4 separate regions of the Homo sapiens genome follow, and regions 1, 2 and 3 are each linked to region 4. The links come from fine-mapping of genetic effects on gene expression. A gene starts in region 4. Each other region holds a variant in brackets. All regions are shown on one strand. Distances are from middle to middle.

Region 1 (2,685 bases), 130 kb before region 4:
CAAATACTCCCATAAATACTGGTCACAGGACTAAAGCTATCACCGGATCAGTGTCCAGTACAGTCAGAAACAAAGCATTCAGCCAACAATCTCACCAAGAGTGGCAGGGCTGGGGGCACTCAAAGGGGAAGTGTCCAAAAAGAATCACAGATTTTCCTGCTGTGACACGTATACAAATTTTTATAGATACTTACACACACATATATTTATATACTATGCCCCCACCCACCCTACATAGTATAGTACTTTTTAGTTTATAAACATTTTCATAGACTGTATCTCATTTGAGCATCATGACAACACTGTCAGGTAAATATGAGAGATATTAGAACCCCACTTAACAGATGAGGAAACTGAGACTAATATCAAGTGACATATACAAGGTAACACAGATATAAAATAAGGGTATTAGGCCAACACTCTATTACAAAACAATTTTATCCCTTAAAAGTTAAACAATTTTTTTTTTTTTTGAGACAGGGTCTCGCTCTTTTGCACAGGCTGGAGTGCAATGGCACAATCTCGGCTCACTGCAACCCCTGCCTCCCAGGTTCAAGTGATCCTCCCACCTCAGCCTCCAGAATAGCTGGGACTACAGGTGTGTGTCATCACACCAGGCTAGTTTTTGTATTTTTAGTAGAGATGGGGTTTCACCATGTTGGCCAGGCTGGTCTCGAACTCCTGACCTCAAGTGATTTGCCCGCTTCGGCCTCCCAAAGTGCTGGGATTATAGGTGTGAGCCACTGCACCTCTGCCTCCCGGGTAACCTCTGCCTCCCGGGTTCAAGCGATTCTCCTGTCTCAGCTTCCCAAGTAGCTAGGACTAGAGGCGTGTGCCACCATGCCCAGCTAATTTTTGTATTTTTAGTAGAGACGGGGTTTCACCATGTTGGCCAGGATGGTCTCGATCTCTTGACCTCGTGATCCGCCCGCCTTGGCCTCCCAAAGTGCTGGGATTATAGGCGTGAGCCACAAAAGTTAAAAATTTTCAATAAATGTGCTGAGTCCTCAAAAAGAAAACAGAAAAGTACCAAGCTAAAAGATGCAAGATCAGGATCTGACCTCACTCTACAATTTTCTGTCTGTATAAGCTGGATAACTTACTTAACTCCTCAGAGCCTCAGTTTTCTCATCTAGAAAATGATAACAGCATTTTAAAAAAAAAATTTTTTTTTAATTTTTTAAAATTTTATTTTTTGAAAAATAGAGATGGGGTCTTGCTGTGTTGCCCAGGCTGGTCTTGAACTCCTGGGCTCAAATGACCTGCCCACCTCAGCCTCCTAAAGTGCTAGGATTATGGGCATGAGCCACCATGCC[C/G]CAACTGGATAATGGCATCTATCCTGCAGGGTTACTGTAAAGAGAAAATGAGAAAATATATGTAAGGGGCCTCCTTCAAATTATCTAAGATAGTGGTCCCCCACCTTTTTGGCATCCGGGTTCAGTTTCATGGAAGAAACCAGAAAGAGTGGTGAAGCAGGGTAATTTTAGGATGAAACTGTTCCACCTCAGATCATCAGGAATTAGACTCTCACAAGGAGGATGAAACCTAGATCCCGCACATGCTCAGTTCACAATAGGGTTCACACTCCTATGATAATCTAATGCAGCTGCTGATCTGACAGCAGGCAGAGCTCAGGCAGTAATACTTGCTCATCTACCACTCACCTCCTGTTGTGTGGCCTGGTTCCTAACAAGCCATGGACCAGGACTGGTCCACAGCCTGGGGGTTTGAGCCTCCTGAACTAGGACATAACAAGTGCTTAATAAATGGGAAAAACTTTTTTTTTATTGTTTTCCTTTTTCTCTAGGCTCCGGCTATCTTAATTCCTAGTAGGGTTAATAGAATTATGTTTTAAGATTCTTTCTAGTTCTAAAAGGCTATTTCTCTACAGGAGAGTGAACTATTTCTTTCTATATTAAGAAATTCTGGGGCTGGGAGTAGTGGCTTAAACCTGTAATCCCAACAATTTGGGAGGCCAAGGCAGAAGGATCACTTGAGCCTAGGAATTCAAGACCAGCCTGGGCACAAAGCAAGACCCCATGTCTACAAAAAATACAAATTAGCTAGGCAGGGTGGCACATGCCTGTAGTCCCAGCTACTCAGGAGGCTGAGGTGGAAGGATTGCTTGAGCCCGGCAGGTCAAGGCTGCAGTGAGCCGTGACTGCACTATTGCACTCCTGCCTGAGCAACAGAGGAAGACCCTGTCTCAAGAAAAGAAAAAGGAAAATAAATTCTGGGGTTTTAAATTCAGGTCACACTGCCCCATCTGTAGTTTCTCAAAATGTCTGTAAAAACTTAATGAGAAATGTGCTCATTTAAAAAAAGGATTATTGGCTGGGTGTAGTGGCTCACATCTATAATCCCAGCCTTTTTTTTTTTTTTTTGAGATGAGAGTCTCCCCCTTGTCGCCAGGCTGGAGTGCAGCAGCGTGATCTTGGCTCACTGCAACTTCTGCCTCCCAGGTTCAAGCGATTCTCCTGCCTCAGCCTCCCGAGTAGCTGGGATTACAGGCGTGCGCCACCATGCCCAGCTAATTTTTGTATTTTTAGTAGAGACGGGATTTCACCATGTTGGCCAGGATGGTCTCAATCTCCTGACCTCGTGATCCGCCTGCCTTGGCCTCCCAAAGTGCTGGAATTACAGGTGTGAGTCACCGCACCCAGCCTATAATCCCAGTCTTTTGGG
Region 2 (2,685 bases), 44 kb after region 4:
GAAAAGAGACTGAACTAACATACACCAAAATGTTAATAGTGATTAGTATACGTGGGGGAGTATGACTCATTTTTACTTTGCATGTGTGTGTGCTTTTCCAAAGTTTTTACAATGGGGATGTATTATTCTATAAAAAGACGATATTGAAAATGTGCTACATTTGAAGAGTGGCAAATTTTAACAATAAATCTAAAACAAATAATAGATGCAATTAAAGGGGGACTAGCAAAGGTATCCTCCTTTCGCCCTATGGAGCCTCAGTTCCCTCATGAATAGAGGCAGTAAACTTACAGGGTCACTGAGAAAATTAAATAAGTTAATAATCTGTATATCATGCTTGGTTCTGGGAACTGACACAGAGATTTCAATTTTTTTTTTTTTTTTTTGAGACAGGGTCTCAGTCTGTCGCCTAGGATGGAGTGCAGTGGCGTAATCACAGCTCACTGCAGCCTTGACCACCCAGGTTCAAGAGATCCTCTGCCTCAGGCTCCCAAGTAGCTGGGACAACAGTCCCCGGCAACCACAGCTGGCTAATTTTTGTATTTTTAGTAGAGGCAGGGTTTCACCATGTTATCCAGGCTGGTCTCAAACTCCTGAGCTCAAGCAATACACTAGCCTTGGCCTCCCAAAGTGCTGGGATTAAAGGCATGAGACACTATGCCTGGCCTTTCAACAATCTTTTTAACTATTCCCTCTACTTTGCAGATGGAAATGAATTCTATTTCCTCTCCCTTTGTGCTTGTATACTCTTCCCCTGGAAGCTTGAATTCAAACATTTTGAGTTAAAAAGAGTATATTAAAAATTACCTTCCCTTTCAACTCTTGCCAGGTCATAAACAGATTGAAAGGAAGGGTTTCAAACAGGATTATTCAATGAGAATGCGCAAGGGTTAAAGACATTCCCAAGGGACTCTTTACTGAGTGGGGCAAGGGTTCAGTGTAGAGGGCCTCACAAACAGAAACGATCCATTTATGACAAGGGTCACTGAATGAACACCAGTCACTGTTCTGTCACAATCACACCAGCGAGCTTAAGAGTTAGGAAAGAATGAGGTCGGTGCAGCGGCTCATGCCTGTAATCCCAGCACTTTGGGAGGCCGAGGCGGGTGGATCACGAGGTCAGGAGTTCAAGACCAG[C/T]CTGGCCAACATGGTGAAACCCTGTCTCTACTAAAAATACAAAAATTAGCCTGCCATGGTGGTGTGCACCTGTAATCCAAGCTACTTGGGAGGCTGAGGCAGGAGAACTGCTTGAACCCGAGAGGCAGTTGCAGTGAGCCGAGATCGCGCCACAATACTCTAGCCTGGGCGACAGAGCAAGATTCCATCTCAGGGAAAAAAAAGAAAAAAAAAAAAAAAAAAAAAGAAAAAAAAGAATTAGGAAAGAATGGAAACTGACATTAACTGAAACTTAGTACTTGGAAGTCACTGTGCAAGACATTCTATATATGTGTATTCAATACTTAAAATTAACTTATAAGTAAAAGTTGTAAAACATAAAAATTTAAAATATAAGCATAACTTAAAATAACAAAGAGTCTTCATGAAGGAAAGTATATGGAAACAACTAAAAGCACTCAGTGAAATTTCTTGAGTTTACTAGAATGAAAGCTCCGTAAAAGCAGACTTTGGTGGTTAGCACAATCCATACGTGTGCGCTACTGTGCATGTACTGTGTGCATACCCTAAGATAGGGTAGGTGATGGAAGCCTCTGGCGGCCTGCTGCAAGGAAGCAAAGAAAAACATATGGAGCTATTCTGGGTGGGAGAAATGGCCCTAGAACTATACTTGGGACTACTTCTTTTCACAACATTCATAATCTCTTGTTCTACCTCTGCCTTGTAACTCCACCTTATCCCCATTTCTTCCACAAGATTCAGCTAGAGTGCTTTAAACATGTAGTTTAAAGCACAATACAATTTTTCATTGTTTTAGCATTTGCTATCATATAAACTTTGTTCCTCCTAAATTGGGAGTAAGTTAATACTACTTAACACTGTACTATTTTTTCAATACCTTCCATACAAAATGACATGCTCCAGACTTACTCACGGACAGCATACACAAAGAGTACATCCATAAAGATGACGGAAAATCTCTGGAAAAGTAAGGTCCTTGAGCTGGAGTAATTCAAATTATGGACATTCAGCATTTCTTGATCAAAATATTTGGCAACATGTGACAGGATATACTCAAACCATGCAAAGAAAGGGGGGTAATCCAACGTCCACTCTGAAGTTGCCTGTGATAAAAATAGAAGATCAGACATATCCTAAATAACTGAATAAACAAAGATGGTGCAACGATTTAAAATTTTTCATTCTCTGGTCTTTAAAACAGCACAATAAGGCTGGGCGTGGTAGCTCACACCTGTAACCCCAGCACTTTGGGAGGACAAGGCAGGCAGATCGCTTGAGCCCAGGAGTTCAAGACCAGTCTGGGCAACATGGTAAAACCCTGTCTCTATTTTTAATTAAAAACAAACGAACAAAAATCACAGTGAAATGCTGTTGCACTTAAAATATGCCCTAAATTAATAGAACAATTCCTATGTAAGACTGAACAGAACACTAAAACCTGTCTTGTAAATTATTTAACATGGTCTTCAATTTCCTTAAATAGAGTCAACTACACTTAAAGGAAATTAATTTGAAACCTGGAGATGATAAACTTGGTTATGACATGGT
Region 3 (2,685 bases), 44 kb before region 4:
GGTTCAAGTCCTGGCCTTGACATTAACTACATGGTCTTGTACAAATCTCGTCTTTTTGCTGGGCTAAGTAATCTTTCAGGTCCCTTCAGTGCAGAGGTGGGAACGGACAGCCCACGTGTTTTCAAGACAGTCTGAGTCATCCCCAAACAGACTATAGCCAAGCAGGGGACCCTGCTCACCGCGGCCTCAGTGATCTCAATCCCTCTTGCCTGAGTTTATGGGCCATGAGCTCTCCGAGGTACACTGTAGTGAACATGTGTAACATTTCCACCCTGCTTTTATTCACTCTCCTTTGTAAAGAACAACGGCTTTGCTTCGGGGGCCACCCTCTTCTTTACTCTCTACCGCCACCATCTTGCCACCATATGTAGCCTGAGATTGAAGTTAACCTACAAAGGAACATAGAACTAAGAGTTGATGAGAACCTGATTGCCGGCTATCATTTGAGCACTGATGAAGCTCTGCCTAAGGCCCTACCCCTGGAGTTTCCGGTTAGGTGACCGAGGGTTTTTCTTTTTGACTTACGCCACTTTACAATGGGTATATCTGTCACTTCTGGCATTCTAAAGAGGCCAGTGGAAGTGGAGAGCATGCTGTAACTCTTCTACCTGTCTCTCCAGATCCACTCCAGCCTTTTCTACTCTGGGAGGCTGATCCTTTTGGGGTGCATCCACAGGCTTCCATGCACCCTGGCTTCCAACTGAGTTTGGCCAATGGGAGCTTAGCGGGAGATCAGAGGCAAGAGGAGGCAGAAGCCAGAATATTCCTTCCCGGGCCCTCTCCCTGTCGAGTTCCTATACATTGGCTGCATCCCTCTTCTGAAGGTCCCAGCCCGTGATAGCTGTCTCCACACAGCTATCATCTCAGTTCTGCTAACTGCCCCCTTCCTCACCCTGTTACTAACCCTCAGGGTCTGCACTATCTCTTGTTACTCTCCCCAAACCCTGCCAAAGGGACTCTTTGTAAAGAGTCGCTTTATGGGCCAGGCGCGGTGGCTCACGCCTGTAATCCTAGCACTTTGGGAGGCCGAGGCGGGTGGATCACTTGAGGTCAGGAGTTCGAAACCAGCTCAGCCATCACAGTGAAACCCTTTCTCTACTAAAAATACAAAAAATTAGCTGGCCATTGTGTTGCGCACCTGTAATCCCAACTACTTGGTAGGCTGAGGCAGGAGAATCATTTGAACGCAGGAGGCAGAGGTTGCAGTGAGCTGAGATTGTGCCACCACACTCTAGCCTGGGCAACAGAGCGAGACTCCATCT[C/CAAA]AAAAAAAAAAAAAAAAAAAAACAGTCCCTTCATGGCCGGGCACAGTGGCTCACGCCTGTAATTCCAGCACTTTGGGAGGTCAAGGGAGGCGGATCACTTGAGGTCAGGAGTTTGAGACCAGCCTGGCCAACATGGTGAAACCCCGTCTCTACTAAAATACAAAAATTAGCTGGGTGTGGTGATGGGTGCCTGTAATCCCAGCTACTTGGGAGGCTGAGGCAGGAGAATCACTTGAACCCAGGAGGAGGAGGTTGCATTGAGCAGAGATTGCACCACTGCACTCCAGCCTGCATGACAGAATGAGACTGTCTCAAAAAAAAAACAAAAGAGTCCCTTTATGAAAGTCTCCTGAAATACCCAGCTTGAGAGAGCTATCTATGTTCTGCCTGCATATCTATATGTGTTTCAAGTGTGAGTGTGAATGTGTGTGCACACATGTGCATGCATTGTGTCTATGCTGTACACTTGACAGTCTCAAACTGGGACAAGAGGGGAGCTGATTTTCACAGGTGCTCACCATGTGCCAGACTCCATGCAGGGTACTTTGTATGCACGATTGAGTTTCATCCTCACAATTCTATAAAGTGGGTATTTTTAGCCACATTTCACAAAAGATAAAACCAAGGCCCAGAGAGGTGAAGACACTCACCTAAAGTCCCACAGCTAAATAAATAGAGGAAACAGGATTCAAAACCCATATACATCTGGCTGTAAAGCCTGTGTTCTTTAGCCTCCTCCCGGCACTGCTTTCCCAAATGCCTGGCTCATTCTCATACTTTAGATCTCAGCTTAAATGTTACCTTTCCCAAGAGGCCTTCCGTGACCACTCTATTTGAAGGCTGTCATCAATGATTCTTTTTAGTAAGACATTACTTTTCCTTCAGGACATGCCTTTGTTTACTGAATGTCTGCCCCAAGCTCCATGAGGGCAGCCAGTCTCCACATCTGTGATTTTGTTCACCACTGTGATCCTGGTGCTGAGCACATGTGGCTGCTACATGCTAGGCCCCGGATAAATCGCTGCTAAGTGAAAACATGGCAAAGGAAAGGAACAGACATGTATTAATTGCCTGCCCAATGCCAGGCATTTTACACAGTTTGTCTTAGGAAGTACATGCTGTTGTCCCATTTTGCTAATGAGGAAACCAAGGCCAAAGAAGGAATATGACTTTCCCAAAGTCACGGAACCATGAGCCAGGGTTCAAAACCAGGTCCCTCTGAGCCACAGCTGTGCTCATTCCATGGTGCCCTCTGTCCCCTACTCAGGTGTCCACCACAGGATGAGAGGCAGAGGGGCCAATCAGTAAAACTCATGTGAATCATTCCTGGACAATCAGAAACTGGGGAGCAAATAGTGCCTGCTGCAACCACTCCCCCGGGGCCAGCCACTCTCAGACCTCGTGGGCACACGCCCTCCCAGCC
Region 4 (2,685 bases):
CTTGCAGTTTTATCTAAACCTGAACACTCACTCAATCATCAAACACCCTCCATTCAGAGGTCCTTGCCCCCATTAGCTCCCACTAGCCCCACGGGCCTAGAAAGCTGTCTGTCTCTCAGTCCTGCCTGATAATCAAAGTTAACTTCAAAGACCCCTCTTCCAAAGTTCCTCTCCTCTTTTCCCTCTGGAAATCCATAGAGCTTAGCAAAGCTACTGTGGTGGTTATTATCAGAATAGTCAGTGTCTCTGATAGGAAGCCAGTGACATACTACTGGGAAGTACAGCACACTGGTTTAGAGCCTCCTATTCAAACCGTGGTCCTCAGACCAGCAGCAGCAGTGTTTGAGCGCTTGTTGTTAACATCAAGTTCCTCCCCAGACCTCATGAATCAGGATCCGCTTTTTTTTTTTTTTTGAGACAGGGTCTCACTTTGTTGCACAGGTTGGAGTGCAATGGTGCAATCTCGGCTTACTGCAACCTCTGCCTTCCAGGCTCAAACGACCCTCCTGCCTCAGCCTCCCTCAGCCTGGGACCACAGGCGTGCACCACCACGCCCGGCTAACTTTTGTATTTTTTTGTAGGGACGGGTTTTCGCCCTATTGCCCATACTGGTATCGAATTCCTGAGCTCAGGCGATCCGCCCGCCACGGCCTCCCAAGGCGCTGGGATTACAGGTGTGAGCCACCTCGCGCAGCCCAGAATCCGAATTTTAACAAGACACCTATGCTATTCGTATGCACATTAAGTTTGAGAAGCACTGGTGTCCAATATCCATTCAGAGGTCAAAAAAAAAAAAAACCAAGCTCTGCTACTTAATAGCCATATGACCTTGGGCAAGCTGCTGTTAATCTGTTAGGCTCGGTTTCCTCGTTGTGAATAATACATCCCTAAAAGTGTTTTAAGGCCGAAATGCTATCAATAATGCCCACAGTGTGAGTAGTGCATGGCATGGAGTCATGGCTCATTTGCGCACACAGCACAACACGAACTGAGGAGAGTAGTTTCGGGTCCTTCACAGACTCAGTTCCTGCTTCACTGCACCTCAGTTTCTTCAAGTGCCAAATGACACTCTGGCTCTGCTTGATTCTAAAGAGCTAATGGGGCGCGGACTCCCCGGAAAGGCGAGATGGGGCCAGCTAGGCAAAAAGGCACGGAAAAGCAGAGCACCTCAGGGGGGCCTACGGCCGGGCCAGTCTGCAGCCCTACGACCCCTTCTCCTCCCAGCCGATCCCGGCCGCGCAGCACTCACCAGCCGTCGCGATCGGCCTCCGCCGGATTAGGTTATCAATCAGGCCGGAGCAGTAGCCCAAGAAGCCGATGTAGAGGAGCCGCGGGTCGGTCAGCTTGGGCGGGGGCAGGCTCCGGGCCTCATCCGGCAGAAACCGTAAGGGTTCTGGGTTCCGCCGTGCGATCATGGTGACGCCGTTTCCACTTGAGGCCTGGTCTCAGACCACGAACTACAAGGAAAACCACGACGACCACTACCCCGGCCTAAGCGGTCAGCTTTCTCCTCCTCCTCTGCGCGCCGGACTCACGGGCACGGCGCAGCGCGGTGCAGCGCCCAAACGCTTCCCGGTACGTGTTGCTGCGGGAACCCGGCACGCGAAGTTCCGGGCTACTAAGTTTCACTTTGCTCGTCCGCCCGCGCTAATTCTCTGGTGGGAGTGGGATTCACGGGCCTGGTAACGCGGGGTCGAGGAGTACCCCAAACGAGCCAAACTGGGCGAAGACTAGGAGATACTGATTTTCTTTTCTCCCAACTTCCCCAACCAGAATTGCCTCTCCCTCCCCTGCCCCTTCTGGAAAGATTTATCTTTTCATCCAATACCCACAAATGGGCATGATGCGTAGTTTTGATAAACGTAATTAATTGAAATTCCATAAAAGCTAGTTTTCGTTTTCTGAGTTTTCAGTCGTTCATTCGCATAGACACTCCCTCCAAAGCCTAAAATTAAGGTCTGGCCAGCAACAAAAGAATTTAGAGAAGCCCAGGACTGGATCGTTTTAGTCTATTGTTGAAATTCAGATTCGGAGGCAGCACCCTAAAATGTTTCACCTCTGGGTCTTCACGTCGTTACACATGGCTGAGTGAGGAGGTGTTCCCTAAAGGTTTGAGTAATGAGGCCAGGCGCCGTCACTCACGCCTGTAATCCCATCACTTTGGGAGGCTGAAGTGAGCGGATCACTTCAGGAGTTCAAGACCAGCTTGGCCAACATGGTGAAATCCCATCTCTACGAAAAATACAAAAAATTAGCTGGGCGTGGTGGCGGGTGCCTGTAGTCCCAGCTACTGGGAAGGCTGAGGCAGCATAATCGGCTGCTCGGGAAGCTGAGGGGGGAGAATCGCTTGAACCTGGGAGGTGGAGGTTGCAGTGAGCCGAGATCGCACCATTGCATTCCAGCCTGGTCAACAAGAGCGAAACTTCGTCTCAAAAAGAAAAAAAAAAAGGTTTGAGTAATGAAAGAAGGAATTTATAATTCTGTTAAGCAATTTTCCAGTCTCTGCTGTCAGGCCTCTCAGCCGAAGCTCAACCATTGTAACCCCTGTGACTTGCACATATGCGTCCAGATGGCCTGCGGGAGCCAAGAAGTCTGGGGCAGCCAAAAACCCACAAAAGAAGTAAAACAGCCACTTCCTGCCTTAACTGATTAACAAACATTCCACCATTGTGACTGGTCCCTGCC

Alleles and levels. Alleles are on the strand shown, and positions count from the first base shown. SD is a standard deviation of normalised expression in the study named. Not every link is listed here.
For the expression in neutrophils of the gene that starts at base 1,533 in region 4, CAAA is the high allele of the variant in region 3 and C is the other (large effect, 0.79 SD a copy in BLUEPRINT).

Evidence for each region. PIP is the estimated chance that this variant, and not a neighbour inherited with it, causes the effect.
Region 1: its variant is fine-mapped to the expression of NDUFC2 in whole blood (TOPMed, PIP above 0.99).
Region 2: its variant is fine-mapped to the expression of NDUFC2 in whole blood (TOPMed, PIP above 0.99).
Region 3: its variant is fine-mapped to the expression of NDUFC2 in neutrophils (BLUEPRINT, PIP 0.95).

What each region holds. Positions count from the first base shown.
Region 1 is chr11:77,953,129-77,955,813 of GRCh38, forward strand. All of the region lies in intron 8 of INTS4 (integrator complex subunit 4), which reads right to left. Among named protein-coding and RNA genes, the nearest start is that of INTS4, 40 kb to the right of the region's middle. The variant C/G (reference allele first, on the strand shown) is at 1,317.
Region 2 is chr11:78,121,975-78,124,659 of GRCh38, forward strand. It overlaps ALG8 (ALG8 alpha-1,3-glucosyltransferase), which reads right to left. Exons shown (of 13, transcript NM_024079.5): 3 at 2,047-2,240. Among named protein-coding and RNA genes, the nearest start is that of ALG8, 16 kb to the right of the region's middle. The variant C/T (reference allele first, on the strand shown) is at 1,138.
Region 3 is chr11:78,034,582-78,037,266 of GRCh38, forward strand. All of the region lies in intron 2 of NDUFC2-KCTD14 (NDUFC2-KCTD14 readthrough), which reads right to left. It also overlaps a transcript of KCTD14 not described here. Among named protein-coding and RNA genes, the nearest start is that of KCTD14, 13 kb to the left of the region's middle. RefSeq lists a silencer at 2,462-2,685. The variant C/CAAA (reference allele first, on the strand shown) is at 1,263.
Region 4 is chr11:78,078,330-78,081,014 of GRCh38, forward strand. It overlaps NDUFC2 (NADH:ubiquinone oxidoreductase subunit C2), which reads right to left and starts at 1,533. Exons shown (of 3, transcript NM_004549.6): 1 at 1,250-1,533. The coding sequence starts at 1,415. NDUFC2-KCTD14 (NDUFC2-KCTD14 readthrough) reads right to left here and starts at 1,533. Exons shown (of 3, transcript NM_001203262.2): 1 at 1,250-1,533. The coding sequence starts at 1,415. RefSeq lists an enhancer at 1,253-1,312 and a silencer at 1,516-1,705.